Linked DNA regions of Homo sapiens. The protein of the gene in region 2 interacts with the protein of the main gene of each other region in a biochemical or structural test. Each region holds a gene or a part of one and is shown on either strand. Other genes may lie near its edges. The genes, in order: SNCG, GRK6 and FSHR.

The links.
Region 1: of the proteins of GRK6 (region 2) and SNCG, one has a biochemical effect on the other in vitro, tested with the Homo sapiens proteins (one study listed by BioGRID).
Region 3: of the proteins of GRK6 (region 2) and FSHR, one has a biochemical effect on the other in vitro, tested with the Homo sapiens proteins (one study listed by BioGRID).

The regions. Positions count from the first base shown.
Region 1 is NC_000010.11:86,953,203-86,963,442, reverse strand, and holds SNCG (gamma-synuclein), read right to left. Parts: upstream 4,746-10,240; coding exon 4,625-4,745; intron 3,811-4,624; coding exon 3,769-3,810; intron 3,495-3,768; coding exon of another isoform or gene 3,443-3,494; coding exon 3,315-3,442; intron 840-3,314; coding exon 768-839; intron 479-767; coding exon 458-478; 3' UTR 185-457; downstream 1-184. Other genes in the region: MMRN2 (multimerin-2 precursor), read left to right, coding at 5,902-6,065. UniProt on the Homo sapiens protein: Plays a role in neurofilament network integrity. May be involved in modulating axonal architecture during development and in the adult. In vitro, increases the susceptibility of neurofilament-H to calcium-dependent proteases.
Region 2 is NC_000005.10:177,434,939-177,444,568, forward strand, and holds the end of GRK6 (G protein-coupled receptor kinase 6), read left to right. Parts: coding exon 1-1; intron 2-93; coding exon 94-183; intron 184-1,134; coding exon 1,135-1,343; intron 1,344-1,454; coding exon 1,455-1,592; intron 1,593-2,950; exon of another isoform or gene 2,951-3,932; intron 3,933-4,975; exon of another isoform or gene 4,976-5,093; intron 5,094-5,761; coding exon 5,762-5,899; intron 5,900-5,980; coding exon 5,981-6,115; intron 6,116-6,306; coding exon of another isoform or gene 6,307-6,312; exon of another isoform or gene 6,313-6,415; intron 6,416-6,796; coding exon of another isoform or gene 6,797-6,798; coding exon 6,799-6,852; coding exon of another isoform or gene 6,853-6,889; 3' UTR 6,890-7,953; downstream 7,954-9,630.
Region 3 is NC_000002.12:48,975,079-48,984,992, reverse strand, and holds part of FSHR (follicle-stimulating hormone receptor isoform 1 precursor), read left to right. Parts: intron 1-1,826; coding exon 1,827-1,895; intron 1,896-2,006; coding exon 2,007-2,081; intron 2,082-9,914. UniProt on the Homo sapiens protein: G protein-coupled receptor for follitropin, the follicle-stimulating hormone. Through cAMP production activates the downstream PI3K-AKT and ERK1/ERK2 signaling pathways.

The DNA.
Region 1 (10,240 bases), on a different chromosome or scaffold from region 2:
CTCCTCCATGTTAAAGGCAATGGGTGGGTTGGGGGTGTTCCTGAAGGCTCACGCAGGTCCCATGAATGCCCTGTGTGTGTCCCTATAGGATACCTGGTCCTATCAACAGGCTGAACCCGTTCCTGTTCCTGGGAGGACCTGGGGACCCCTCCTCAAGCTACACAGCACCCAGAGGAAGCATGGCAGGAGTGGGCTCAAGTTTTATTTGGAATCATTTAAAAAAAAAATTCACAGCAGCATAAGTGGGGTCAGAAGGACCAGAGGGTGGGTGGGGCCGAGGGAGGGCAGTGAGGTTGGTGCAGCAGCACAGGTGGACAGGCCAAGGGTGGCCAGGGAGACGAGGGCAGGAGCGTGGGCAGCCGCATGTCACTCAAGGCGGGCACTCCTTGTGCTAGGAGGGGATGGTGTCCAAGGCAGAGGAGCGCTCTTCAGGTCATCCACGCTGGCCTGTAGCCCTCTAGTCTCCCCCACTCTGGGCCTGGGAGAGAGAATGACCTGCACACCCAGCTCCAGGCCCCAGCCTTAATGGGCCACCCTGAGTGGGCTGAGAAAAGTTGTCTTCTGTGCCCCATGCCTGAGGGGTCATCCGTGGGGGGACCTCCCACTCAGGTTCAGGGTTAGCCCTGTACACAGTCCCTGTAGGGGCTGTGGAAGGTCAGGAGGCCCCTCTGGGCCCTGGGAGCCCAGGAGGGAAGCAGTGCGTCTGTGGGGGATGGGGTCCCTACCAAGGAACCCCCCATGGTGCACCCCAGGAGCCCAGCTCCTACCTCCTCTGCCACTTCCTCTTTCTCTTTGGATGCCTCACCCTCCTGTTGGGGGGCAGATGGCCTCAAGTCCTCCTGTAGGGGACAAAAGGGGGCATGAGACCATGTGGAGAATGCAGAGACCCCTAGCTGCCCTGCAACCAGGGCCTTGTCTACCCTGGCCTCAAGGAGGAGCAGAGGCCCCTCGTGGCCTTGTTGTACTTGGAGGGGCTGGAGGTATTGGGGGCGTGCAATTCAGACAATACCCGGGGCTCTGATGATGCCGAGGCCTTCCAGGGGCACCAAGTACCCTGGAGCCCAGCTTCACCCCTCAAGCTGGTCCCCAGTCTCTGGGAAGCCCCTAGTTGGGCTTCACTGATGAGGAACCTGGGTGGGGTAGGGTGGAGTGGGGGTTAGAGTGGGCAGAGGCCCCTGAAGCCCCAGGTCTGACCCCACCCTCAGTAGCCCTACAAGGAAGACTGATTGGGGTTCACATAGGGACTCTGAGGCCAGGGAGGCTTGGCATGCAGCTCAGGGCCTTCGAGCTCAAAGTGGTGGGGTGTGTTGGCATCAGATCAGGCTTGCTTCAGGCCCACTTCAGTCCACAGGAGCATGGCTCCCTCTCTTTGCCTCCTGGACAGGCTCTGGGCTCAGGCTGGTCAGGGCCAGCAGAGGTTACACAGTCCTCTCTCACTTCCCATCTTCTATCTCCTGCACTCCATGCCGGCCAGACACTTGCGTGAGATATCATGACAGCTGGGTGTGTAGGACCACACTGGTGATTGCCCTGCACTCTGGCCTCAGCACCTGCCTCTGGCGGGGGACGGGGGGGAGGCGGGGATACTGTCACCTCTGTGTTGCCCCAGGGCCATCCTGCCCCTTGGCGGAGTGGGGCATAAAAGGGCAGTGCTGTGCTGGCGGGAGTCGGCCAGGCTATCCAGGGGCAGGGCAGGTGGCCACCTGCTGAGTCCTGCTGCCCTAAGGCTGATGATGAGGCCAGGGGTATGAGTGGTCAGATAGTCCCTGCTGAGGCCTTTCACAGTTCACTGGGAGATGAGTCGTGACTGGTTTTGGGGTGTCACCAGGAAATGAGTCTCCCTCGAGGTGGCTCCAAGGGCTCACTAGCCCTGCTCCGGGATTCACAAGGAATGCCCGGGCACCCTCACCCCAGGGCCTCTTTTGCTGGGGGTGAGGAGGGAGGAGCCCCCTGGGGCTCTATGTGTTCTGCCTGGGACACATGATGATGATGATGATGATGGTCACCTTCCTCTGCTGGGTGCTCACATAGACCAGGAGAATTGCTTCATGGAGGTCATGGCCCTGCCTCATCACACAGCCCAGGGAGGCCGACACTCTCACCCCCATCTTGCAGATGAGAACACGGAGGCCCAGAGAGGTTCCTTTGCTTCTCAAGGTCATACGACGAGAAAGGGGAACTAGGAGAGGGAGCGGCTGCCAGCTCCAAGGACATGGAGACCCTGTGCTGGCCCTGGAAGCAGACACCTGGGCATCGCCCCAGAGCCAAGAGGAGTAGGGCAGCCCCCACCCTTCCACCCACCCACTCCTAACGCAGGGATTCTCAGTGCTCAGAGCCTCAGACTCCACCACCTAGGAGGCCTGGAGCAGGTAGGAGAGCTGGACACTGCTCCCCCGCCCCACCCCCAGGTAGGAATCCTAGCCCAGGCCACCACTTACACTGCCACAGGGTCTCTCAGAGTACAGGCTGCTCAGGGGAATTCCAAGCTCACATGAACTAGCCATGGGACCTTGGGCACATTAATCTCTCTGGGCCTTAGTTTCCACACCGTCTCATGGATTTTGTGTCTATTAAATGAACTAATAAGCGTACAATGCGTAAAGCAGAGCTTGCTGTGTCACAGGTGCTGGGACAGCTCACCCAGCCAACACCCGTCCCTGGGGTGCGCCCCACTGCTCCTGTGCTGTCTGCTATTGGGCCGCACACGCATGTGTACATTCACACGCATGTACACCCACACATTCTCACAAATGCACCCACATGCTCACTCAACACACGTGCACACACACACAAAGGCAGCTGCAGAGGGTAGGGTCAGAAGCAGCACTGCTTTCTTACCACTAGGGGACGCTACTTCCCTGAGGCTCCCAGCAGGAGGCAGCTGCCCCGCCCAGCCCAGGGAGGGAGGCTAGGCCCTGGGGGCGGGGCTGGTGCTACTCAGCCCCCGGCCTGGTGACCACTGCCCGGGAGGCTGCCTGTCACCGTGTGGGATCCTGTTTTCACTTATAAAATGGGGTGTCTCCTAAGTGCTGAGAGCCGTCCGGAAGATGTGGTTTTGAGCCTCACTTTCCTTGTCTATGAGATGGGCTCCCAAGTCCCCCGAAGGGGTGGTTGTGGTGATTCCAGACCCGAATGCAGGTCGAACAGCAAGCATGGACCCCACCCCATGCCGGCGCTCAGTGGGTACTGAAACTGAAGCCAGCCGCAGCCCCCCGTGTTGTTTCCTGGGGTGTGGAGTGGAGTGATGCCGCCTCCGCCCAGCAGCCTTTCTGGGCCCAGGAGAGGACTGGGCAGGTCTGAGGGCCGGGGCTCACCTTGCGCACCACCCCGGAGGTGACCGCGATGTTCTCCGCCTCCTCCACGGTCTTGGTGGCCACAGTGTTGACGCTGCTCACCACAGCCTCGCTCACGGCGTTGGCCTGCTCCTTGGTCTTCTCGGCCACTATGGGAGGACACTGGCTGGCCTCCACCCCAGCCCCAGCCCCAAGGCAGGCCTGCTGGAGTCAGGCTCGCAGCCCCTTCCCAGGAGCTCAGAGCCCTGGCCCTGCTGGGACCCTCCCCTGCTCCCTCTGACTCCAGGGCACCTCTGATGCTGGTGGGGGTAAGGAGACGCCCACCCTAGTTTAGCCTCATGGTCTGCAGGGGTCTGTAGGGCTTGGGACCCCAGTTGGGGGTAAGGCAGGACTCTAGGTTTGAGCCCCAGCACTAGGATGCAGGAGCCCCAGGGGTCCTATCCCCCATGTGTCCCCTGGCCCTGGGGCTTCTCACCTGAGGTCACGCTCTGTACAACATTCTCCTTGGTCTTGGCTCCTGGGGAGGAAATGGAGCTGTCAGCCCAGACCTCCCTCGAGGTGTTGGGGGCGGTCAGGACAAACACAACAGAACAGCTGGACAAACTGTGGGGTCGGTGGGGGGGTAAGGATGGTGTCTGGGGGCCGGCGGCCCCTTCAGAGGGCCTCTTCCTGCTGTGTCTGGAAGAAGTGGATGGATGGGAAGGGGACAGGACAGAATGTGGGGGACAAGAGAGAGCAGGCCTGAGGTAGGGACACTGGCTAGACCCAGGGTCCAGCCCCTGCCCGGGTGTGGCCGGGCCTCAGAAGCAGCAACAGGACAGGATGGGCCAGAGCTGAGTCATTGGCTTGACCTCCCCTTCCTCCTCTGGAGAGTGCCAGGAGAGGATGCGGGGGAGGGAACACTGAGCCTAGGTTTCATCCCCCAGCCTGCCCCTTCTCTCTGGGGAGGGAGGGGATCCGTGACCTGGCTGTAGCCGCTCCCGTGTGGAGAGGGTGGGGGCCACCTGAGCACAGGCTGCTCATGGCTTCAGGGGCTCCAGGCTCAGGGGAGGCTGGTATGCTTGGGAATGTGTGTGTGCGTGCACAGACAGGTAGCCAGCCCTGTCTGCGGTCTCTGACACCCAGAGGCCCCGAGGAGGCCAAAGACAAACACACATAGGTGTGCACAGGGCATTGTGGGTGCTCCAGGGTCTGGAGACCCCACCTTGATAGCCAGGGCCTCGCCCCCTCCCAAAATGCCTCCCTGGGGCTGGGGAGTAAGGTCTGGCGAAGGTAACTGGGCACTCACCCTTTGGCCACCACACTGTCCCACCCTGCCATGCCCCACTTACCCACATACATGACCCCCTCCTTGGTCTTCTCAGCTGCTTCCGTCACCCCCTGCTTGGTCTTTTCCACCGCACCCACCACGCCCTCCTTGGCGATGGAGAAGCCCTTCTTGAAGACATCCATGGTGGGTGTGCAGGGTTGTGCTGCTGCAGGCAGGACGGAGCTGGATCTCCCTGCGAGCTGCGGGCTTGAGCTGGCTCGAGTGCTGCCGCAGCGGCTGTCCCCGATGCCTCCTATTGACGCCGATGAAATATTGATGCGGAGGCCAGCTGGAGCCCAGCCAGCCCTGCGTGCAGTGGGGGCGGGGAGGGAGGGAGGGAGGGAAGGAGGTTCAGCCTCACCTTCCTCCAGGATAGGAAGGCAGAGACCAGGCTCCCTGGGCTCCTGCTGGCTCAGCCCAGCTCTCCTGCCCCGTGCCCTCCATGGGCTGGAGGGGGCTGGCCACCTCCCAACCTGTCCCTCATTCATTTACTGCCCTGCCCACCCATGGGGGCAGCCCTGGCTGGGTGCTCTTGGCCCCAGGGGTGCTGTGTCTATGCTGCACCTGGACAGACAGGCACAGAGAGGGGAGGCGCCTTGGCCATTGTCCCCAGCTTCCTAGGTAGGGGTCAGGGCCACATAGGCCTGTTAGGTGAGAGCAGCCAACCTCCCGCGGCCTGGGCTGTGCAGCTACCCACCAGCATCCTGGATGCCGCTGGACCCTGGGCTGCCATGAAACCGGTTGGAGGATCTGAGGTGGGTGGGGGTGGGGAAATGAAGGACTTCCTCATGCCTTGGCCTCTGGCTGCATGCTGTGTGACCCCAGAATAGTCCCTTCCCTTCTTTGAGCCGCCCAGTGCTGAAGGTGCTGAGGAGGCATGAATTGCCCCCCATTTCCTGGCCAGCAGTGTGGATGGGCAGCAGGTCCCCTGAGATGGACCTGACCACTTCCTGTGGCCCCACCTCGAAGTCCACGCTCTTTTCATGGCTCCCAGGGAGCAGGTTCCCATAAGGATGCATTTGGTGGGGCCACCCCATGTCTACCACATTCCCAGAGTCCCTGAGCCAAGTCCTCAGGGACAGGAACTGGCTTGTGTGGTTGGCGGCCCCTGTGGGGCCAGCCAGGGTAGTTGGGGGGCAGGACAAGACCCACCGGGTAGGCCGGCCCAGGCCACTTCCTCTCTTTGTTGTCCTCGTATTTTCTTTTCCTCCTGAGATTTAACTTGAAGACAACGTCACTAGCAGTTTCTGGAGCTACTTGCCAAGGCTGAGTGTGAGCTGAGCCTGCCCCACCACCAAGATGATCCTGAGCTTGCTGTTCAGCCTTGGGGGCCCCCTGGGCTGGGGGCTGCTGGGGGCATGGGCCCAGGCTTCCAGTACTAGCCTCTCTGATCTGCAGAGCTCCAGGACACCTGGGGTCTGGAAGGCAGAGGCTGAGGACACCGGCAAGGACCCCGTAGGACGGTAAGAGGGCCTGGACCTTGGCAGAGGTCATGGAGTAGGATCTGAGTCCCAGCTCAGCTAGAGCAGAGCCTCTCTAGACCTCACTGGGGTCCCATCTGTGAAATGGGCTAATAGTATCTATCTCTGGGCCATCTGTGAGGCTGAAAAAGTAGTCTGGACTGGGTGTTTCAGGATCCACCTAAGAATTGCAGGGAGTTCCCTGTCGGAGCCATGGCAGGGAATGGGGCTTGGGGGGCTGGCAGGGAGGCACAGCTCCTACCATCAATCACCCAGCATGGGGCACTGGGGGACTGTGGCTGAAGCCATTGCCAGCTGGCCTGGCTATGCCTCCTGTTCTTCCAAAGAAATCAATTCTGAAAGCTGAGACCCAGCAAGGCTGCCCTGAGATTTTGATCTGAGTTCCCTGGGGACCTGACTCTGACTGCCCAGCAGTGAGCAGAGACGGCCCCCTGCTCTCCAGAGCACAGTCCAGGGCGCTCTGCCTCAGCGACCCAGCAAGTGGGCAGGATGGTCTTGCAACTGGACCCAGAACATAGCTTTCCAACATTCTATGTGTACAGAGCCAGGGCCCATCCTGCTGATGAGGTGTTGGGCCTGTAAGTCCCCCCTCATCTCCAACTGCCCCTCAGTCAGAGCAGCAGGTGCTGTTTACGGGGCCCCCAGTCTCAGGGCCAGGCACCTTGCCACGTGTATCTCAGTTCATCCCTCCAACAGCCCCACTTACAGAGGAGGAGCCTGAGGCTCAGAGAGGCTGAGGGGCTTGCCCAAGGCCACACAGCTAAGGAGCAGGATCTGAGTTTGACTTCAGAGCTCATAGTGAACTCTCTGCAGCACTTGGAGCCAGCCCCAGCCCCCAGATGCTCCTACCTCCACCCTCCTGCCCCCACACACCAGACCTGTTTGGCTAAGGGCATCTACATGGATTTAGGGAGTGAGGGGGGGGCCAACTTACACTTCTGTGCGGTGTATGAGAGCCACCATCGCAGAGCGGACCTGCCTGGGATAGGTCTCATTTGGCTTCTGAGTTGCAGGTTTGTTGGGTGCTTTCCTGAAAACAGATTTGACCAGGGAGGGGCAAGAGGCCCCTTAGTGAGGGTCTGGTGGCAGTGGCGTGGGGAACAGTGGCTGAGCAGTTGGCCATGGAGAAACCTCATTCCCGCCTGCCCCCAACTCTGCTCAGGGCTGGGAGGTGCAGGTGATTCTCGGTGGTGGGGCGGCAAGGGGAGCAGGGGGCGGGGGAGGGGCGGGCTGGATCCAGCCACTCCGCTCTGATTTCAGGACCAAGGAAGCTCCACGCCTTAGTCTCAGGCCACCTTCCGCCTTTTGATGAAAGGGAGGATGAGAGGACCCGGTGGACGGGAGGGAGGAGGGAGCTGCTCCTCTTCCTCCCCACCCCCTTGGTTGTGGGAGAGACATTGCTCCCTTAGCCCCAAGGAGTGAGGGTTTGGGAACTGCTGATGGGCAGCCCTGCAGGGGCCCCGCAGTCCTTCTCTGGGGTTCTGAGTGGGAGGGTGCATGTACCTGGCCCAGGAATGCCCAGGTGTCCCAAGCCTGGAAGCCCCCTGCCTGCAGGGCTCTCCTTCCCACATCCAGAAGCTGCAGTCTCCACAGGGCAAGTCCATGCTCTCTCACCAAACCCGGATGGGCTGGTGAGAAAGGAAGGAAACGCGCGGCTTCCTGGGCTGATTACTTCCCTTGCTCCTGTGACCAGGGAGGTGGAAGCGTGCTCCAGACCCTGTCCCTGCAGCATGGGAAGGGGAGGCAGACTGGGTTCTGCTAGCAGGGGTGGTGACACCAACACCATCACAAGGAGGCTCGGCTGCCAGGGCCAGGCATTCTGCCCTGCCTTTGCCACTTACATCTGTTTCCAGAGCCCCAGGGCTAGGCTGGGCCCAGGATGCAGGCCCCAATAAGACCCTTTGCAAGGAGAAGCTTGAATAGAACCACTACGTCCTCAGACTTCCCTGAGGTGGAGAAGCGAAGGGGTTAACTGCTTCTTAGGTTGCCAGGGACCCCGAGGGGCCCAGCCCAGGGAGCCAGCAGCCTGAGCATTAGGACTCCGGGAGGAAGAGGCTGTTTCTGTGCCCTGGCTTGGGGATGTCTAGAATGTGGGTGCCTCAGACCCAGGATTTGCTGTCCCAGTGGAACTCAGTCTGCGGTAGGGACCGTGCTGAGCCCCAGGCAAGGTGTCCCATCTATCACATTGCTATGATAGCTTGGAGGGGTGGGGACGCCTCCCAGGGCCACAGAGCTCCTAAGTGACAGTGAGAGCCCAGGCCCACCCAGGCTGTCCTGTCCCCCCAAGAGGGTGGCCGTGTAGGGGATGCTGCTGCCAGCAGGCTGGTTGGCCCCAGTCACCAGCCTCAGGCTTCTCCTGACCCTTACACAAAGAGCACTGAGATTTTCCCAGCTGGGAGCTTGTGGCCCAGAGGAGTCCAGCATATGACTGGAGGTCACACAGGAGCAGGGCAGAGCACAGGCCGCCTTCTCTGGGCCACGATGCACCTTTTGCACTTGTTCCTCCCCCATCCTCACCCCCACCCCCGACCCCTGCCGGGCACAGAGCCCTTGGTATGAACAGGGAAGAACCCCCACTGGCCAGAGCTGAAGCTTCCAGAACCACGCTCAGGGGTTCTTAGCTCTGGGCTGATCCCTGAGAGCCTCAGGCTTCTCTGCCAAGGCCCTTTTCTGACTCAAGGACAAAATCCTGTGAGTTTCTCCCCTGGAATGGTCAAGTTAATGGCTGGCTTCAGGGCCTCAGAAAACAAGGCTGCTGAGAACACGCCTTCCTTCCCAAGGAAGACTTGAGGGCCCCTGGGAGGGCGTTTCCTGGCTGGGGAAGGGAAGGCACTCCACACAATCTGCATAATGGATGCGCCCTCCCCCTCCCACAGGCTCCCTCTCCCTTCCCCCCACACCAGCTCTGATCTGTGTGCCGCAGAGGCACAGCTTCTTCGCATTTCGATGATGGGGGAAGGGCCTTGCCCAAGGTCACTGTGGGTTCAGGGAGGAGGAGGAGAGGAGAACGCAGGCCGCCCAGCTTCCATTTAAAGCTCCAAAGGAGTCCACGTACCCTCCTATCTGGGTGGAGCAGCAGGTTGGGGCCACAGCAGACCAAGGGCAGCTCCAAACCAGGCCAGAGGAGCCCCACATCCACTCTGGGTTGGCCACTGGGAGATGAGGGCACCCAGCAGGACTCCCCAAGGGAGGGCACAAAGATGAAGCCAGCCTGAGACGGAGGGGCAGAGGGAAAAATGGGCACTTCAGCAAGTTGGGCCGGGGGCATGGGCATCAAGGGCCAGCCAGAAGCTGCCAAGAGCTGGAGGAAGCCAAAGCAAAGGTCAGGAATGTTCCCAGGGTTCTGGGCCAGCAGCCTGTACTGTGCCAAGGGAGGGCCTGCCCAGGGTGGGGAGCATGGGCAGAGAGAATAGCAGTGCTGAAGCCCAGGGTCTGGGCAGGTCAGCGGAGAAAGTTCCTGGGCAGGAAGGGTGGGCGGCATAGTTTCCACTTCCAGGAGCTTGAGGTGGAAAGTCCCAGTCACTCCTGGCAGGCTGGACCAGGCCAGGCGTGCCTGGGGCACACGCCTTCCAGGCCCTCTGCAGTAGGTCAGAGGTTTGCAAGGAATGGAAGTTTGTTTAGAGAGAGTTTCTCAGCCCTGGCATACTGACATTTTGGACTAGATAATTCCTTGTGGTGGGGTGTGGAGATGTCCTATGCATTGTAGGGTATTTGGCAGCATCTTTGGGCCCCACCCATGAGATACCTAGTCATGAGTAGCACCCACCACCCAGTCGTGACAATGCACCTGGGGAAAGTACCCTCTCCTCCCATTGAGAACCACTGGTCTAAGAGAGATTTTTCCCTAGGGCTGAGCTGTTGCGGGAAGTCAGGGACCCTGAACGGAGGGACAGGCTGGAGCCGCGGCAGAGGAACATAAATTGTGAAGATTTCATTTTAATATGGGCATATATCAGTTCCCAAAATTAATACTCTTATAATTTCTTACACCTGTCTTTACTGCAATCTCTGAACATAAATTGTGAAGATTTCATTTTAATATGGACATTTATCACTTCCCTAATAATACTCATAATTTCTTATGCCTGTCTTGCTTTAATCTCTTAATCCTGTTATCTTCATAAGCTGAGGATGTACATCACCTCAGGACCCTGTGA
Region 2 (9,630 bases):
GGTGTGTAAGGGTGCCTGGGGTGGGTCAGGGTGGGGTGAGATGCAGAGGCCTGGCCTGTTAACGGGTCCACCTGTTTCTCCACCCACACTCAGGCCACATCCGCATCTCTGACCTGGGACTAGCTGTGCATGTGCCCGAGGGCCAGACCATCAAAGGGCGTGTGGGCACCGTGGGTTACATGGGTGAGTCTTCTCTGCCCGGCCCACTAGCCTCCTGGGTTCCCTCACTATCCACCCACCCAGCCACACCCACTTCTGTCTGGGAGTCTTCTCTCAAAAGGGGCCTCAGTAGAAAGGGCCCATGCCGATGCTCCTCTTCTAGAGGTTAGGAGACCAAGACTCAGCCGGGGCCGCACACAGTTGTGAAGCCATGTCGTTCATTTGCTGAATACTTATTAAACCCTGCTATGGCTGAGCCTGCAGGTGGCTACCGGGGGATGGAGGAGAGAGACCCAAACCTGTTTCCGTGGCCCCAGTCCCTGCCCTCCCTGTGCCCATCTGTGAGGGAGGCCAGTGGAGGGGCCAACATGAGGCCCCACATTCCACCTGGAGACCGAGAGACGCAGGAGGCAGAGTCCTGGCTCTGCAGGCTCCGCCTCTTGCCGGTTGCGTGGCCTTGAACCAGACACTCCGCTGCTCCCGGCCTCACTCTGCTCCACTGGAAAACACTCATCATACCTGCCTCCCAGGGCTGCCTGGAAGATGAAAAGGGAGAGTTCAGGGAAAACTCCCCACAGGGCTGCCCTGGCAGGTAGGAGGTATTCAGAAAATAGGAGTTTCCTTCTTCTCGCTGATATTAAATCCAGAAGTTGCAAAATGGTAGCCACATGGGCCCAATTTGGCCTACATTTGTGTTTAAGTCAAACTGTTTTTAGTAAGCCAGATGGTTTCACATACAAAATACAGATTTCTGACTTCTTGTGTAAAATCTGAAGACCCGGGGACCCTGGGCGCGGCCTCCTGCAGGGCCGTATTCACCCCGCTTGATGGGGCCTGTGCTCTCCTACTGGCCAAGGTCCCCCCTGGCCAGCGGGTGTGAGTGTATCCCAGACCTAACGTGCACTGGCGTTCCTGGGGCCTGAGGGTCCACTGCCCGCCTCCTGCCCAGCCCTAACTCCCATGCCGCCCGCCCAGCTCCGGAGGTGGTGAAGAATGAACGGTACACGTTCAGCCCTGACTGGTGGGCGCTCGGCTGCCTCCTGTACGAGATGATCGCAGGCCAGTCGCCCTTCCAGCAGAGGAAGAAGAAGATCAAGCGGGAGGAGGTGGAGCGGCTGGTGAAGGAGGTCCCCGAGGAGTATTCCGAGCGCTTTTCCCCGCAGGCCCGCTCACTTTGCTCACAGGTACGGCAGCTCACAGAAGCCTGGCCAGCCAGGGCTGGGGTGGATGCACCTTTCCCTCCCTCCCACCCACTCACCTGCCTGGCCTGCCTGGCCGACTCACCCCTGCCACAGCTCCTCTGCAAGGACCCTGCCGAACGCCTGGGGTGTCGTGGGGGCAGTGCCCGCGAGGTGAAGGAGCACCCCCTCTTTAAGAAGCTGAACTTCAAGCGGCTGGGAGCTGGCATGCTGGAGCCGCCGTTCAAGCCTGACGTGAGTGCAGCCCACTCCTGCTGAGGGCGGGGCCCAGCCAGGGCTGGGGCTCAGGGGCTCTTGTAGTATCAGCCAGGATGCTTCCAGTGCAAGTGGCAGAAAAAACAATCTAGTGGCTTAGCCACAGAAATAAAGATAATTCACAAAAAGGAAAAGCCCCAGGATGGGTCTGGCTTGTGGCATGCCTGGATGGGGCTTGGAGCCTCTGACAATGTCCTAGGAACTCTCTCTCCTTCCCCTCACTGTACCGTTGAGTGTGTAGTCTTCATATTGGGGTAGCTCTCCCCATGGTGCGGCAGCAGTGGGCCCCAGCAGCTCAGCCACCACAGTAGACAGAGAGCTTCTCTTCTCTTTTCTCTTCTCCTCTCCTCTCCTTCCTTCCTTCGTTCTTTTTTCCCTTCTTTTTTCCTTTCTTTCCTTTCTTCCTTTTCTTTTCTTTTTGGAGACAGGGTCTTGCTCTGTCCCCGAGGCTGGAGTGCAGTGGTGAGATCTTGGCTCCCTGCAACCTCTGCCTCCCAGGTTCAAGCGATTCTCCTGCCTCAGCCTCCTGAGTAGCTGGGATTACAGGCGCCCACCACCATGCCCGGCTAATTTTTGTATTTTTAGTAGAGATGAGGTTTCACCATGTTGGCCAGGCTGGTCTTGAAATCCTGACCTCAGGTGATCCTCTTGCCTCGGCCTCCCAAAGTGCTGGGATTACAGGAGTGAGCCATCGCGCCTGCCCTTGCCCAATAATTTCAAAAGAAATCCTCATGGGGGAAAAGAAGTCCCAAAGCTGATGCCCATTGCCTCTCATTGCTCAGAGGCCCCTCACTGGCCACACCCAGATCATACACCCACCCGAACCTGCACCAATGGGGGAGCTCAGTTCCCCAGAGGAAAACTACAATGCAATTGCCAGCAGTGGGAGGGGCTGTTGGGCTGGCCATCCTTCTGTGGGTGGTCACTTTTCCTTATGGAGTCTCACCTGTTAACTGAGCATCTCAGTGGGCCAGGCACCCAGCAGGCAAGAGTATCCTCTAGTTGTCAGAGTCCGGGTGGCAGAAAACCAACCTAAACTCACTTAAGCTCACCGTGGAGTGTATTGGTTCATTTGGCCAGAAAGTCCCAAAGTAGGGCCAGCTCCAGGGTTTCCTGCTGTGTGCCACGATTCTCCAGCTCTTGCCTGGCCTTCAACCTGTTGACTCTTTCCCTCCCCCTGAATTAGGCTTCTCTGTGTGACAGTCATAGGGAAGGTTCTGATTGGCTAAGATGAGGTCATGTGCTTTCCCCTTCCCATGTCTATGAGGACTGGTCCTGTAATTAACGGTTCACCAGGAACACTGGAGAGGCCCGAAGGATGGGCAGGGCAGGCCAGGTTGATAGCTGTCAATGACACACACGTTTATTGATTCAGCAAATAGCTGAGTGCCCATTTATGCCAGACCCTGGAGATAATGAGGCCCACTGGAGCCAGTCCTGCCCTTACATTCTAGTGGGAGACACACCCAAACAAACCCGTAAGCCAGAAGGAATTCCAGGTAATGTTAAGTGTGACAAAGAAAACTAAAGCAAGCGGCTGGGTGCGGTGGCTCACGCTGTAATCCCAGCACTTTGGGAGGCTGAGGCAGGCGGATCACCTGAGGTTGGGAGTTCGAAGACCAGCCTGACCAACATGGAGAAACCCCATCTCTACTAAAAATACAAAATTAGCTGGGCATGGTGGCGCATGCCTGTAATCCCAGCTACTCGGCAGACTGAGGCAGGAGAATCGCTTGAACCCAAGAGGAGGAGGTTGCGGTGAGTTGAGATCGCGCATTGCACTCCAGCCTGGGCAACAAGAGTGAAACTTCATCTCAAAAAAAAAAGAAAACTAAAGCAAGCTACGAAGATGGCAGAGAATGATGGTGGGGGGAGCGCTTTTAGACACCGTGGTCTCTGGGGAGGTGATGCTGGTGCAGAAATGTAAAATATGTGAAGCGGAGAGCCATGCCAAGGTTTGGGGTGTGAGCATTCCAGGCAGAAGAAACAGCCGGGTATTGCAGTCCTGAGGCAGGGGCCAGCCCTGTGAGGTGGAGCAGCCGCGAGGACACCTGTGTGGCTGAGTGAGCCCGTGCAGGCAAAGAGGAGTGCCGGCAGGTTCTCAGCAAGATGGGACCGCTGGGGGACCCTGGGCAGGAATGTGAGGTGTGGGGAGTGGGCCATAGTGGGTGTGAGTGGAAGTGGGGAGGCCAGTGAGGGGGCTACTGCCCTGAGTGACTGCCTCACATGGGCCTCACTGGAACCGCTGGCCAGGCTGGTCTCGAACTCCTGACCTCAAGTAATCTGCTCGCCTTGGCCTCCATACCTCTTGGTCTATACCTAGAAGTAGAATTACCAGGTCATATGGTAACTATGTTTAACCTTTTGGGGAACTGCCAGACTGTTTTCCAAAGCAAAGGTGGGCCCTGTCAGAGGCACTTACTTGAACTAAGAGAGCCTGACTTTCATCAGCTCGCCCCTGAGGCTGGCACTGCCACTCAGTCTGTTCTGTTTCCTGTGTACATCATCTCATTTAACCTTGAAATAACTACACTGCCTCTGGATCTTCCATTCAAAGTCGGAGATAAAATCAGTGCCCTGGAGTTTAACTTTGTGGAAGCAGTAGATGAAAAAGCAAGCTTGATGATATTTTTTTAACAGCTCTATTGAGTTTAATTTATATGATTTATATACCATACAATTCACCCATTTAAAGTGTACAATTCGGCTGGGCGTGGTGGCTCATGCCTGTAATCCCAGCACTTTGGGAGGCCAAGGTGAGTGGATCACCTGAGGTCAGGAGTTCAAGACCAGCCTGGCCAACAAGGTGAAACCCCCGTCTCTACTAAAAATACAAAAATTAGCTGGACGTGGTGGCGCATGCCGGTAATCTCACCTACTTGGGAGGCTGAGGCAGGAGAATCGCTTGAACCTAGGAGGCGGAGGTTGCAGTGAGCTGAGATCACACCATTGCACTCCAGGCTGGGCAACAAGAGCAAAACTCCCATCTCAAAAAAAAAAAAAAAAAGTGCAATTCATTGGCTTTTTAATTATGCAGTCAGCACCACGATAAATTCTTGAGTGTGTTCATTACCTGCCCCACTCTGCAAAAAAAAAAAAAACCCATACCCTTAGCAGCCATTCCCCATGCTTCCCTCCCGCTGCTCCTAGCAATCACCAGTCTACTCTGTGTCTCTCTCTGTTTGCCTACTCTGGACATGTCATAGCTATGGCATCACATAGTATGTGATCCTCTGTGCCTGGCTTCTTTCACTTAGCATAGTATCTTCAAGGTTCATCCATGTTGTAGCATAGATCAGTGCTTCATACCTTTTTAAGGCTGAATAATATTCCATTGCATGGATAGACCACATTTTCCTTACCTGTTCGTCAGTTGGTAGACATTAAGATTGTTCCCACTTTTTGGCTGTTATTGCTGCTGTGAACATTCCTGTACAAGTTTTTGTGTGTGCAGATGCCGCCATTTCTCTTGGTCTATACCTAGGAGTAGAATTACTAGGTCATATGGTAATGATGTTTAAGCTTTTGGGGAACTGCCAGACTGTTTTCCAAAGCAGCTGTACCATTTTACATGACAATGATTTTAATTGACATCTTAATTGAAGGATTTAGAAAACAATGTTAAGATAAAAAAAGAAGGTGGCCGCCTGGAGCTGAGGTGGGCTCCCAGTGTGGGTCTGGGGAGGTGGAGCAGTGGGAGACCGTGCCAGTCCTCTGATTGGCTGGGAGAGAAGACGGCAAGTCCCAGGTCATCGCAGGGCGGGGAGCCAGGGAGTCACCAGCTCCAGGCTCTGCGTGGTGGTGCCCAGCGGAGGGGCCGGCTGAGATTCAGCCTGTACTCCCCGCCCCAACTGCATACCCAGGAAGCTGTGGGCAGGCGAAGGAGGTGCCTGGCATTGGCCTTTACACAGCCTCACAGTCATTGAGCAGTGAGGAATAACGTACGCAGTTCACAGAGGGGAAAACCAGGCTTCGGAGAGAAGGGCCTGCCCCACTTAGGAAGTGCGTGGGGCACCTGGTTTCTCCAAATCAGAGAGCTGCTGGTGTCAGGCAGCACTAGGCCAAGACCCGAGGCAGAATCAGGGCTGAGCTGCCTTCGCGTGTGCGTGTGTGTGTTTCCTATCTGACCGTTGCCTCTGTCCCACCAGCCCCAGGCCATTTACTGCAAGGATGTTCTGGACATTGAACAGTTCTCTACGGTCAAGGGCGTGGAGCTGGAGCCTACCGACCAGGACTTCTACCAGAAGTTTGCCACAGGCAGTGTGCCCATCCCCTGGCAGAACGAGGTGGGGGCCTGCCCTGCTGGTGGGGTGGGCTCCAGGAGGCTGCCCTGGGGACAGCTGTCACAGCCGCCTGCTCCTCAGCAGATGGTGGAGACCGAGTGCTTCCAAGAGCTGAATGTCTTTGGGCTGGATGGCTCAGTTCCCCCAGACCTGGACTGGAAGGGCCAGCCACCTGCACCTCCTAAAAAGGGACTGCTGCAGAGACTCTTCAGTCGCCAAGTAAGCCCCAGCAGCGGCCTACCTGGGCCCCTAACCTGGCTCCAGGGGACGGTGGGTGGGAGGCAGAGCCGGTGCCCGCATGCGCTGGGAGTGGGCGTCCTCCAGTCCTGTTGTGGTGCCCAGGGTCTCTGGCCTCATTCCCGCCTGTCCCCCACCCCTGGCTGGGCTCATGGCCTCTTTTCTCTTTCCAGAGGTGAGCAGTGTGGGCTCCCCGTGGGTTGGCCTTGCTGCCTGGCCTCGGGGAGCCACGGGCAGCCCTTCCATGGCAAAGGCAAGATGTGGGAGAAAGAAGTCTGGTGCCCGCCCCACTCCCCCTGCCCACTGCTTTGATCCCCTGCACCCTGGCCCCTTCGAGCTGCCAGCTTTGCTTCGCTTGTCTCCCCGTGCCCTGTCTCTGCCAGCCCCAGGGGAGAGGGCTGGGCAGAGGCCTTGCCCTGGCAGACCGTGGGATCTACCCAGCCCCCTTACTTCAGTCTGTTGCCGGCAGCCTCTGCAATGACGCCCACCCACGTGTGGCCTGAGCTGCTGCTCCAGGCTCCTTGTGGAGAGGCCCCTCCCCAGAGTGCACCCCTCAGGCAGCTCCTGGCCTGCCCTGGCAGGGTCGGCCCCATGTGACGTCCCTCGTGGTTAATGGCACCTGCTCTGCCTCTCTCCCTCCCTCCGTGTCTTCCCCGTCCCTCCAGGATTGCTGTGGAAACTGCAGCGACAGCGAGGAAGAGCTCCCCACCCGCCTCTAGCCCCCAGCCCGAGGCCCCCACCAGCAGTTGGCGGTAGCAGCTACTCCGAGCGCCGTTTACAGTTTTGCACAGTGATCTTCCCCATTGTCCACTCAAGTCGTGGCCTGGGGAACACAGACGGAGCTGTCCCCAGTGTCCTCCGTCCCTCAGCCCCTGGCCTGGCTGAGTTTGGCAGGGCCTGGGCCATCCCTGGGACAAAGGTGCGTCCCTTCAGCTCTTCTCCGTGGAGCTCGGGGCTTTCTGTATTTATGTATTTGTACGAATGTATATAGCGACCAGAGCATTCTTAATTCCCGCCGCAGACCTGGCGCCCCCGCCTTGGCTCCTGGGGGCAGCCAGCCCTGGCTGGGAGAGCGGGAGCTGGCAGAGGAGCCACTGCCAAACTCAAGGCTCCTCTGGCCCAGCTTGGATGGCTGAGGGTGGTCACACCCCTGAGCCTTCAGCACTGTGCTGGCCACCCCGGCCTCTGAGTAAGACTCGTGCCTCCCCCTGCTGCCCTGGGCTCAGGCTGCTACCCTCTGGGGCCCAAAGCTGTCCCTTCTCAGTGCTTGTCAGCGCTGGGTCTGGGGCCTCTGTATGCCCTAGGCCTGTGCCAAAGTGGCCAGAGATTGGGCTGCCTGTGATACCCATCAGCCCACTGCCCCGGCCGGCCCAGATAGGTCTGCCTCTGCCTTCCAGCTCCCACAGCCTGGTCCCTGATACTGGGCTCTGTCCTGCAGACACCTCTTTCAGAAACGCCCAAGCCCAGCCCCTAGGAGGGGGTGGGGCATCCCTGGTCAACCCTCAAACATTCCGGACTCCCCTCATAACAATAGACACATGTGCCCAGCAATAATCCGCCCCTTCCTGTGTGCGCCTGTGGGGTGCGTGCGCGCGCGTGTGTACCTGTGTGGGTGAAGGGGATAGGGCGAGGCTGTGCCTGTGCCCCAGGTCCCAGCCCTGGCCCTTCCCAGACTGTGATGGCCATCCTGGTCCCAGTGTTAGGGTAGCATGGGATTACAGGGCCCTGTTTTTTCCATATTTAAAGCCAATTTTTATTACTCGTTTTGTCCAACGTAAGCTGCCACATGTCTCTGTGTGAATAGTCCGAGCACAAACCTGGCTAGCCGCCCCTGCCTGCCTCTTTCTTGCTTCCGGTGCTCCAGGGGTCTTCCTGCTCCCCTGGCCCAGCTGGAAGCGGGAAGGGATTGGAGGTGGGCCTGGAGGGAAGCAGGGTGTGCCCTTCCGAGGCCCAGGAGCCCCCAGGGCTGACTCTGAACTAGCCTCTCCAGACAGCCAGGCTTTGGTAGCCTTTGGGCTCACCCAGTGGGTTTCCCAACTTCCTAAATGGGATGGGGCCTAAGGAAAGAAGCCTTGGGTACCCACTGGGATGTGGGTCTGTTTCTGACTGCTGGTAAGGCGGGCCCCGTTGGTGTCCTCCCCTCCAAGGCTAAGGTGGCCTGGCTGCCTAAATGTGGACGTAAGAGTAGGGTGGGAGCTGTGTAAGGAATGTCTGCCCCAGGCCTGCGTTACCTGGACGCCAGCCATGTACGGGCCCCGGGCTGAGGCACGTGCATCATATCCACCCCTCTGTTTTGCCCTTGACACATTATGGGCAAAGACCTAGACAGTGGGTGACGCTGGCAGATAGGCTGTGGCCAGTGTGGGAGAGTTCTCTGAAGACGGTGGTTGAGCCGGCCTCGAAGTGGACATTCACCTGGGAGGAAGGGGGACTGGGAGGCACTCAAGGGGAGCTTCCTGCCTGGGCTCTGGGGCTGAGAGCTTGTTGCCTACCAGTCTGTCCCAGATCTGGCAACCCCATCACTGCTCTATAGACTCCCAGTGTCCCCAGCTCCCTGAGAATGCCCCGTAAGCCCCATCAAGCTTGTTCCTGGCCTCTGGACTGGGCACCCAGTGCTGCAGGAGCCATGTGAGCTTTGTAGCTGACAGTTCCAGGTTCAAGCCCCAGCCTGGCCACTTTTCAAGTTGGCCCTGCACAGGCGCTTCCCTGATATGGAAAGGTAGGTGTAAGACCCATCACCTTTCTGGGCAGCTGTGAGAATCCACCAAAGCAGCCAGCCAGCCCCTTGAGTTCCCAAGCCACCGCAGGACTCCCACCTGCTGGGGAGTGGTGCTGAGTACCAAACTAACCACCTGGCTTAAGCACAGCCAGAAGGTGCCAAGCCAGCAGCCTGGCAGAAGGGGCCTTTTGTGGCCCCACTCATGACATGTGGAGTGCCTGCTGCTTCCCACCAACCTAAGGGAAGTAAGGGGAGTGGGGACCTGCTCAAGGTCTTCCAACTGGTTAAGTGGCCATTGCAGGGTGGGGAGGAAACCAGGTAATGATGGGAAAGCTGGATCCTACCCATGTATCATGAGAAAGGAGCCTGGGGTGGGTTTGCCCCTCTGCCCCAGGCTGTTATGAGGTGGGAGTGGGGGATTTTTAGGTAGGTGTTAGCATGTCATACCAAAGCCCAGCCCTGGGCAGGTATGCAAGAGAGCGCGTGCCAGGTGGATGTGCAGGACCCTGAGGCACTCTGCCTGCACCTGGATCAGGACACCCTGGCCAGCTCCCCCTTGGGCTAGGGAGGCATCCAGGGAACTTCTTGGCTAGGGTTAAACTCACCTTAAAGCTCTTAACACAGTGGGTCCTTGGCAGAGGGAACTCCCAGAATTCATTTCCCAAGAAGCTTCCCTGAGCTGTCCTCCATGCCCAGCTCTATGGTGGGAACTGGGACCCAGATGGAGACGAGGCCCCTGGCAGCTTGGAGCTCAGTCTGGTAGGGAGGCAGACGTGGG
Region 3 (9,914 bases), on a different chromosome or scaffold from region 2:
AGCAGTTCTGAACATAATTTGTTTTTTTTGTGTGATGATCCACTGCTGATATCAAGAAATACCATCCTCCTCCCCATATAATGGTATCTGTTGATTGAGATAATCCATAAAGACAAAGGGATATTTGAATACAATAATTATTTAAAATTAGTTTATGTTTTATTTGATTATAGCAACATCGATTTACAGGACAGTAATATGCAAGAAATATTAATTATCTAGTCAATAGGCAAATAGGTGGAACCTGTATGGATTAAGGGTCAGCCAACTACATATAACCCAGAGGCCAAATCCAGCTCATGAGCTAAGACAGGAAACACTAACATTAGATCTAAGTTAAGCAAAATGTTATCCCCCACTAAAAATTCTCTTCTCAATATTAGGCCTATATTACAAAAAAAAAAAATACCCAATTATTACACTTTGAATTTGGTCAATAAAAAATTGTGGTAATTGTTTTATAAGTACATAAAGTACTTATATAATATTTTTTATTTTTGCCTTTTGGCCCATAAAACCTAAACTTTACTATCAGGCCCTTTACAGAAAAAGTTTGCTGAATCCTGTATTTGATTCAAATCCCCAGGGATCCACATGCCACAGCTACCTCAGCAACTCCCACTATCCTGCAACAGTCAGGAGTCCAGATGTGCCTGGGAGAGGCTTTCTCAAATGGCATTGGGGGTGCATAGCCACTTCTTTGCCATCAGAACCCACCAATTGATTGTGAATGTTTTAAAAGATTTGCCTCGCCCCTTTCTGGATTTTTTTAGGTAATTGGTTTTCAAGAGGAGGAAAAAGACATACAGTTGTTCTCCTGTGATTTTAAGTGTTTTCTGGCTACCCATGGCAGCCCAGGAAAGAGAGTCCTGGATGCACAGGAGCTTCTCTGGGTCAGCTTTCTGTACAGTGTTATTTGCAAGCCCACTAAGCTGGACAGGGAAAAGAACCTGACAGCAAAACAAGAGCAGGTAGTCAGAGGTTCTTCGGGCTAAGCTCTCCTGACCTTGGTATCTGTTTTTGTTTTCAGATCCACTCAGGAGCAGAGCAAGGCAGAGCTGTAGCCCAAGGTGTCCTTGGGCTCCCCTGTCCAGGGAACCCTGCTCACTGACCTTCTTAGCGCAATCAGGATGGCTGTTCTACACCCATCTCCACCTCCCCCAGAACCTCCTCCCCTGCTCATTCAGATCACCTCACCCTGCCACAGCCCACATTCTCTGTAATTGATTTCTCTTCCTTTCTGGCTTAACCCAGAGCCACCTCCACAAACCTCCAATAACCAGGTCCCTATGGGTCACAGGAGATGTTCAGGTTGTCTGACAACTTAATTAGATCACTTTTGATGACAGCCAGGCCTGCTGCTGTGGGTGATCATGGGTGAAAGGCTTAAGGCCTTAGAGAAAGGTGACACAAAATGTTCTTTCTCTGTCTTATAAACACTTGTTCAATAATTGTACGATTCCTGTCCTTCAGGATGAGAAAGATCTGTCGCTCCCCGCATTGCTTCTCTACACACAAATGATGTGTGTAAAGACCTTACAGTTATAGAATCCAGGCTGCTCTGCCTAAGTATGCCTTTCAAACTTAAATTTCATTTAATCCTTTGAATAGGTAATACATGCAAGTAATACAAACTTCAAAAGTTACAAAAGATTATACAGCAATAAATCAGTCTTCCTCCCACCCGTGTCCCCAAGCTTTAAAAGTGGCATTTTCTTTATGCCACTAACCTGTGCTGTCTGCCCTTGCTCAGTGCTTCCAATTATGAAACCCGTGTATTGTTTGCATCTGACATTATTGGTTTTTTAATAGGCCTTTTATTTCAGATGGCTGAATAAGAATGGGATTCAAGAAATACACAACTGTGCATTCAATGGAACCCAACTAGATGAGCTGTAAGTAGCCCTGACTATTCTTCAAGGCCATTTAAAGGGAAATGGCTCTTACAACAGCAATATTTATGTGGCTTTGTGTTTTCCTTCTTCTTTCCTCAACCCCATCCCCAGGAATCTAAGCGATAATAATAATTTAGAAGAATTGCCTAATGATGTTTTCCACGGAGCCTCTGGACCAGTCATTCTGTGAGTAGCTTTCCCCATTTCTGTGTGTAAGAGCTCAGTTTGTGTAAGTTAGAAGTCAACTCTCTGCAGCTAGGGGAGAAGCTTCCAACACAGGGCTGGCCATCAAGTTCAATTTTTATTCGTGTCATCTGCAAAAATTTATAGAGACAATTTAAGGCTTATCCACGGTCTAACTCTCCATTAAAAAGCAACACTAATAATAACATGTAATGAGCACGTACAGAGTGTCAGATGGCGTTCTCAGAAGTTAAGATGCATTTTCTTGTTTAATCCTTATAATCACCCCCTGTGGTAGGAGCTATTATTCCCGTTTTACAGAAGGAAAAACTGGCTTCCCTGGAGAGGTTAATTCACCCACTCAAGGTTATACAAGAGTTACAGCAGGGATTTAAACTGATCTAACTCATGGTACAGACCCACAACCACTCGATCATGTGTCTCTTCCCTGGAAAGGAAAGCACAATTCTCCATCATCCTCAACACTCAGGAGGTTCCTTCAACCCAATGAGACCTATATACACATTATTTTTGGATCCTCTTTCCAAATCCCTTGGGATGCATTCCGTGCCTCACAGCCCTGCATCAGCACCCCTCCCTCTTGTCATTTCCTTACTTCCATCTTTCCCTCCAAAAGTGACTTTCCCATCTTCTCTTCTTACCTACACTGCCCCTTCCATCAAGCATCATTCCAAAGTCCTCTACCTCCTCAAGTCTCTCTGACAACCTCGCCATCAGTGACTTCTTCCCGTGGCTCTCATGGCCTTTAAGGCTTCTTTGGTGGGGGGACAATCTGCATCACAATCACAAAAAGGCTTTTTAAAAATGTGTTCCTGGGCTCTAAGCAAGACCTACTACACTTACTGACTGAAAAAAGTACTTCAAGATGAAGAAAGGAACCCAAAAGGAGAGAATGAGGTACAAGAAGGAATGGTGAGCAGAGCAATAGATAAACATGTTAATAAATCTACAGTTTTACTGAATGATCCTTATGTAGCCTGCCTTAAGTCAAGTCAGGCGTTTAGAAGCCACCTGCCTGAACCTCTTATTTGGCAGTTAGCATAGGCTACCATGTGTGGTTATCTACCCACCTACCGACCAACCATCTATCTGCATCACTTTTGTCTACACCAAATAGCTAATATTCTCCTTCAGGCTGGAACCTGTGTACCTCTAGAATTAGACTTGGTATGGAGAGTCAGAATTTTAAATATTTATTATTAATGATAAAGGGTGTGTTGTGATCTATATATGAGATTCTGCTGCTTTGAAGAAGAAATATACACTTCAAGGTAGATTTATCATCCTGACCATGTTCAAAGATTATTCGAGAATGCCTGGCTTGAGATAGGCAACCTATACAAATGGAGTATCCGTGTGATTAAAGCGGAGATACAGAGCAGACTGCCTTGGTTTAGACCAATTCTTTTACCTCTCTAAGCCTTGGTTTCCTCACCTAAAAAAAATGGCCAAAACAATACCTATTTCCTAATATTATTTGAAGCATAAAACACACACACACACATAAATATTTTTTCACTCATCAGATAAATTTTTAAGCATCAGTCTTGTGCCATGCAGGAAACAAAGGAAAGTTCCTCCTCATAGAAAGCTTATATTCTCATTGGGGGTGGGAATAGAGAGGAGTCAGGCAATACATTAAATATACAACTTAATATATCAAGTCATGATCTATCTATGAAGTACAAGGAAGGACCCAGGGCTAACAAATGGAGAGTGTTGGGCATATAGTCCATGTACTCAAGAATACAAAGTACTCAAAACTTGTACTGCTTAGTTCATGTACCCTGTTCTTAGAGTACTCGGGAGACAAATGAATTTTGACAAGTACTTTTGATGTCTTTGATCCCCACAATAGCAGCATGTCAGTTTCACTTAGCAAAAAGCCCTGAAAGTTTTGAATGTTCCTAAGAAGGCATCTCTATCTGTTCATGGCAGAATATGTCAGTGATGGGTGTGTTTATATATGTGACCTGTACCAGGTACAATATTGAATCTATAGCATCTTAACCTATCTGCTCCCGAGAATAATGAAGTTGGATGAGATCCCCCAACTCCTTCATTATCCAACTGAAGAAATCAGAACCCAGAGGAGAGTGATCTGTTAAAGATCACACTGCAACTAGAAGGGGCAGAGTCTGGACCAGAAACTAGGTCTTCTGCCTCACATTCCATGTATTCCCACCATACCATGTTGCCATAAATACGTTTAATTGAACATCTAAAAGTTATTCGGTGAGGCCCCCTGAAACTGGTTGTGAGCTAAAATAGAGAGGAAAATAACTATTAACACCAGCCTCCCAGCCTAAGAACACCAGTCAATGTTAGATAAACGTGGCACAGAAGAACATCTCCTGAGGTTGCACAAGCAGATTCCAGGCGAAGATACTGCACAATGTATCTCATAAGAATGTTTAACAGAGAACACAAAACTTGAATCCCCCATCTAGCCCCACTGTGAACGCAGGCAGGAAGAGAGCCTCTGTGAAAGCATCGGAAGCAATTCTACAAGGTCCTCAAGTTATAGGCCCATTGTTTTGTCCTTCTTACCACAGGAACACATCTGTCTAGAATTAAGGGAATACAATTTACAGAAAATCCATGGAATTAGGAAGCACTCCCCATGACTTAAAAAGGTAGAGAGTGATAATACATTCCCACATATTTCCATCTCAGTGCAGGATCCTGGCTGGAAGCCCAGCCTATAATTGCGAATTTCCTCTTTTCCCCCTGGGGCCAAAAGAATTGTTCACCTTAACATCAAGCCCCCCTTTCTGGGGCTTTCAGATCAGTCCATAGATGTTCTTCAAGCCTCTCCCCCTGCTGACCTGAGATGCAAGAAGACTAATAGCTTATTCCACATCTCACTTCTGCATCCAGATACACTAAACCATCTAAACCCTGGCCTGAGAGGTGCTTGTGTAGGTGTGCAGTAGACCAGCCCACCTCAGGTGATGAGTTAAGAGGTAAGAGTAGGAGTATGCGTAGGCTATTCAGACCACAGTAGGTGCAAATCATGCTGATCTTGACTGTGCCTTGGGTCAGATTGCAGTCCCCGCTCCCACACACACACACACACACACACACAAAGACTGTGATATATCTGCATGCGGGAGGTTTACCGGAGGGTGCTCTCAGAATGTACAGGGAACCCTTGATGGAAGCAGAATCAGGGTAATGCATTTGCAACAAAAGGCTCAGCTGATCCCATGGGGAGATCTGGAGTTAAGATGGTCCTTCAAAGTTGTACTGAATTAAGGTAAGGGGCAAGTCCTCCATATCAAGAATTATTGGGTGCAGGCTGTCCCTGGGGAGGAACCAAACTCCTGGGGAGGAGAAAGTCAGCTGAGGGCAATTCCCAGAGTAGACTCGGCTATGAGCCACCTCAGCTGTGAGTGGTTCTCAGTTGTCCTAGAGCAGCATGTTCAGAGTTGAGTAGGTTTTGGGGGGGTGTTTTTGTGGTTTTTTTTAATCACCCATGCTGGAGTGCAGTGGTGCCATCATAGCTGACAGCAGCGTTAAACTCCCGAGCTCTAGTGATCCTCCTGCCTCAGCCTTCTGAGTAGCTGGGACTACAAGCGTGCACCACCACACCTGGCCATTTTTTTTGTTGCAGAGACAGGGTCTCACTATGTTGCCAAGGCTGATCTCAAACTCCTGGCCTCAAGTTATTCTCCTGCCTTGGACTCCCAAAGCACTGGAATTACAGGCGTGAGTCATAACACCCAGCTCCCACCTTTAGAATTTTTGATTCAGTAGGTCAGGGTTGAGGCCTGATAACTTGTATCTCTAACATCTTCCTAGTGAAACTGATGCTGCTTGTCCAGAGTGCTCTCTGAGAATTACTGCCCTAGGACCAATATTGGGAATTGGGAAGCCTTGCTCAGTCTCCAAAATATCTCCTCCACAAGCCAAATGTGGTGAATCTTCCTCCCTCACTGGCTCAGTCCTTTTTCTCCAGTGGATATATGCAAGGAATTCTAAGAAAATTAAGGGGCACACACTCAAACTGATGATAGCTGCTTTCCTGAAGGCAAAATTTGTAGTTGAGGGAAGAATAGGGAGCCTCTGAACACCTGAGGGTGCAAGGGTGCACTGTTCCACACAAAGAAAGATAGATGCAGAGAAAGCCAGGGGCATACAAACAAGTTTCATCGAGTTTCAGAGGAGCAGCTCAGCATCCTCATTTCCCCCTTGTGAGTCTTGACCTTGAACATCAGCAGCCATCTGAGTTTTTACCTGATATTCTGAACTCACTCAAGGTTGTTTTTTTTTAAGCAATCGAACAATTGCTGTTTCTTTGGGAAACAGTTTCCTGTGGGGAAAATTTAATGCATTGCCTTTGCAGGCTGGAGCCAGTACAATCATATTCTGATGGTTTATCAAATTGATTTGGCTATAGCTCAGATTCATTTGATAGTTCAGATTCAAACACTGAGTTATTTGTATAAGAATGGTTCTCTTCCATTACCAGTGTACCCACAGTCCTATAGATAGTAAATTGCCTTTTTATCCAGCCTGGGATCATGAAAGAGAGGTCTTCTAGCCATCTGTCAGTGTAGTATACACCAGAAATGTGCTCTCACTTATGGAAATGATTGACCTGTAATAACATCTTTGCTGGGAAAAATAGAAATTGTTCAAATCAAATTTGTGGCACTGGCTATAACACACTTTATTAAATGGGGCACAGAGTGCTTTTTAACTCCTGCCTCTCCTGCCTCAGCCTCTTACTACCCTCCTACCCATGCAGTCTCTCTTGCTACTCTGTATCTCAAAATGAAGAGTACTAACAATGTGGAAACAATTTTAAATTACTAAGTCTCTTCTGTGCAAGTCATAATCCCATGGGGTATCCACTGGTCTTTTCAAGATTTAAATTCTCAAAACTACTCACTATCTGAATATAGCATGTGTTGCAACGTTAAAAGTGATATTTTTAAAAGAAAGACCAAAATCATTAGAAGAGACCAGCCTGAAAGATAAAGTTTAAAAACACCAGTCCACAACTACCCCTCCCCGCTTGTCCAGCCCACCAGTTCCAGGCACAAGGGCAGGAATAAAGTAAACATTCTCAAGCACTCATTGAGGGCATCAAGTCTTACATGACATACATTTAGTGGATGTTGATTAAACACCTACTGTGTGTCTGGCAAGGGGTAAGAAATATATGTGAAAACAGAAAACAGTACCTACTGTAATGCATCTGGCCAAGGGATGAATGTTACTCCCCAGTACAATGAGCACTGCAGAAATTTTCACAAATGGCTATAGTAATATACAGCAGATGCCTAATAAACCCTTGTCATCATGTCACACAATGACTTTTAACACGTGAAGTGATAGTGTGGGAGGAGACAGCCTCTGTCATCCTAGGCCTGAATTTCTGCAAAAGCCACGTTGTCCCCTTCCTACCCTCAGTCCTTTCCCCTTCCATTAGTTTACCAACTATTTATTGAACACCCACCATATGCTGGTATCAAGGTTCTCAAGACTAATCTTACAAAAATCCAGCTTTGAATAAACCATTCTTCTGCTCATATAAATCCTAAACTCTTCTGCATGACTATCAAGGCTCAGAGATCTAATCCCGTCCCATGGTTCCCTTTACTCCTCCAAGTATGATTGCCCAGAATAACTATTCTAAATAACCCTCCCTCACTGTGCCATGATTTATGTTCTGGGCCTCTCTCTAAGCCTATCTTTAGCAAATAGTCATTGTATTAGTCAAGGTTATTCAAAGACAGAAACGAGAGAGAGAGAGAGAGAGGAGAGGGGATTTTATTATTATTATTATATTTTAAGTTCTGGGATACATGTGCAGAACATGCAGGTTTGTTACATAGGTGTACACGTGCCATGGTGGTTTGCTGCACCCATCAACCCATCATCTACATTAGGTATAACTGAAGGAGACAGAGACACGAAAAACCCCTCAAAAACGTCAGTAAATCCAGGAGCTGGCTTTTGGAAGAGAATAACAAAATAAACAGACTGCTAGCCAGACTAATGAAGAATAAAAGAGAGAAGAATCAAATAAACACAATAAAAAATGATAAAGGAGATATCACCACTGATCCCACAGAAATACAAACTACCATCAGAGAATACTATAAACACCTCTATGCAAATAAACTAAAAAATGTAAAAGAAATGGATAAATTCCTGGACACATACACCATTCCAAGACTAATCCAGGAAGAAGATGAATCCCTGAATAGACCAATAACAAGTTCAGAAATTGAGGCAGTAACTAATAGCCTACCAACCAAAAAAAGCCCAGGACCAGACAGATTCACAGCCAAATTCTACCAGAGGTACAAAAAGGAGCTGGTACCATTCCTTCTGAAACTATTCCAAACAACAGAAAAAGAGGGACTCCTCTCTAACTCATTTTGTGAGGCAGCATCATCCTGATACCAAAACCTGGCAGAGACAAGAAAAAGAAAAATTTCAGGCCAATATCCCTGATGAACATCGATGCGAAAATCCTCAATGAAATACTGACAAACTGAATCCAGCAGCACATCAAAAAGCTTATCCACCACGATCAAGTCAGCTTCATCCCTGGGATGCAAGGCTGGTTCAAAATACACAAATCAATAAACATAATCCATCACATAAACAGAACCAATGACAAAAACCATATGATTATCTCAATAGATGCAGAAAATGCCTTCGACAAAATTCAACACCACTTCATGCTAAAAAGTCTCAATAATCTAGGTATTGATGGACCGTATCTCAAAATAATAAGAGCTATTTATGACAAACTCGCAGCCAATATCATACTGAATGGGCAAAAACTGGAAGCATTTCCTTTGAAAACTGGCACAAGACAAAGATGCCCTCTCTCACCACTCCTATTCAACACAGTGTTGGAAGTTCTGGCCAGGACAATCAGGCAAGAGAAAGAAATAAAAGGTATTCAAATAGGAAGAGAGGAAGTCAGATTGTCCGTTTGCGGATGACATGATTGTATATTTAGAAAACCCCATCATCTCTGCCCCAAATCTCCTTAAGCTGATAAGCAACTTCAGCAAAGTCTCAGGATACAAAATCAATGTGCAAAAATCACAAGCATTCCTATACACCAATAATAGACAAACAGAGGGCCAAATCATGAGCAAACTCCCATTCACAATTGCTACAGAGAGAATAAAAATACCTAGGAATACAACTTACAAGGGATGTGAAGGACCTCTTCAAGGAGAACTGTGAACCACTGCTCGAGGAAATAAGAGAAGAGGAGATTTCTTAGGGACATTGGCTCACATGGCTATGGAGGCTGAGGAGTCCATGATAGGCTATCTGCAAGCTGGAGAACCAGGGAAGCTATAGCATGGCTTGGTCCAAACTTGAAAGCTTCAGAACCGGGGAGGCCATCTAATTCTCAGTCCAAGCAAGAGGCCTGACGTGCCTGTGTCAACAAGGAGACAGACATGCACTGGGGAGTAAGTAGAATGATACATTGGGTGGACTGACTTGAACACCATCCAGTGTTCAGGTGTTGGATTGGGAAGAGGCCTGAGAACCAGGGAAATTGATGGTATAACTCTGAGTCTGAAGTCAAAGTCCTGAGAATCCAAGGGGGTGGGGGAGGGAAACTGGTACAAATCCCTGAGTCCAAAAGCCTGAGAACCTGGAGTTCTGATGTCTAAAAGTAGGAGAAGAAGGGGTACCCAGCTTCTGGGTGAGGGCATATCTTCCTTACTCAATCCATGGATTCACATACCAATCTCTTCTGGAAATACCCTCAGACACCCAGAAATAGTGCTTTACCAACTATCTGAATATTCTTTAATCCCCTCAAGT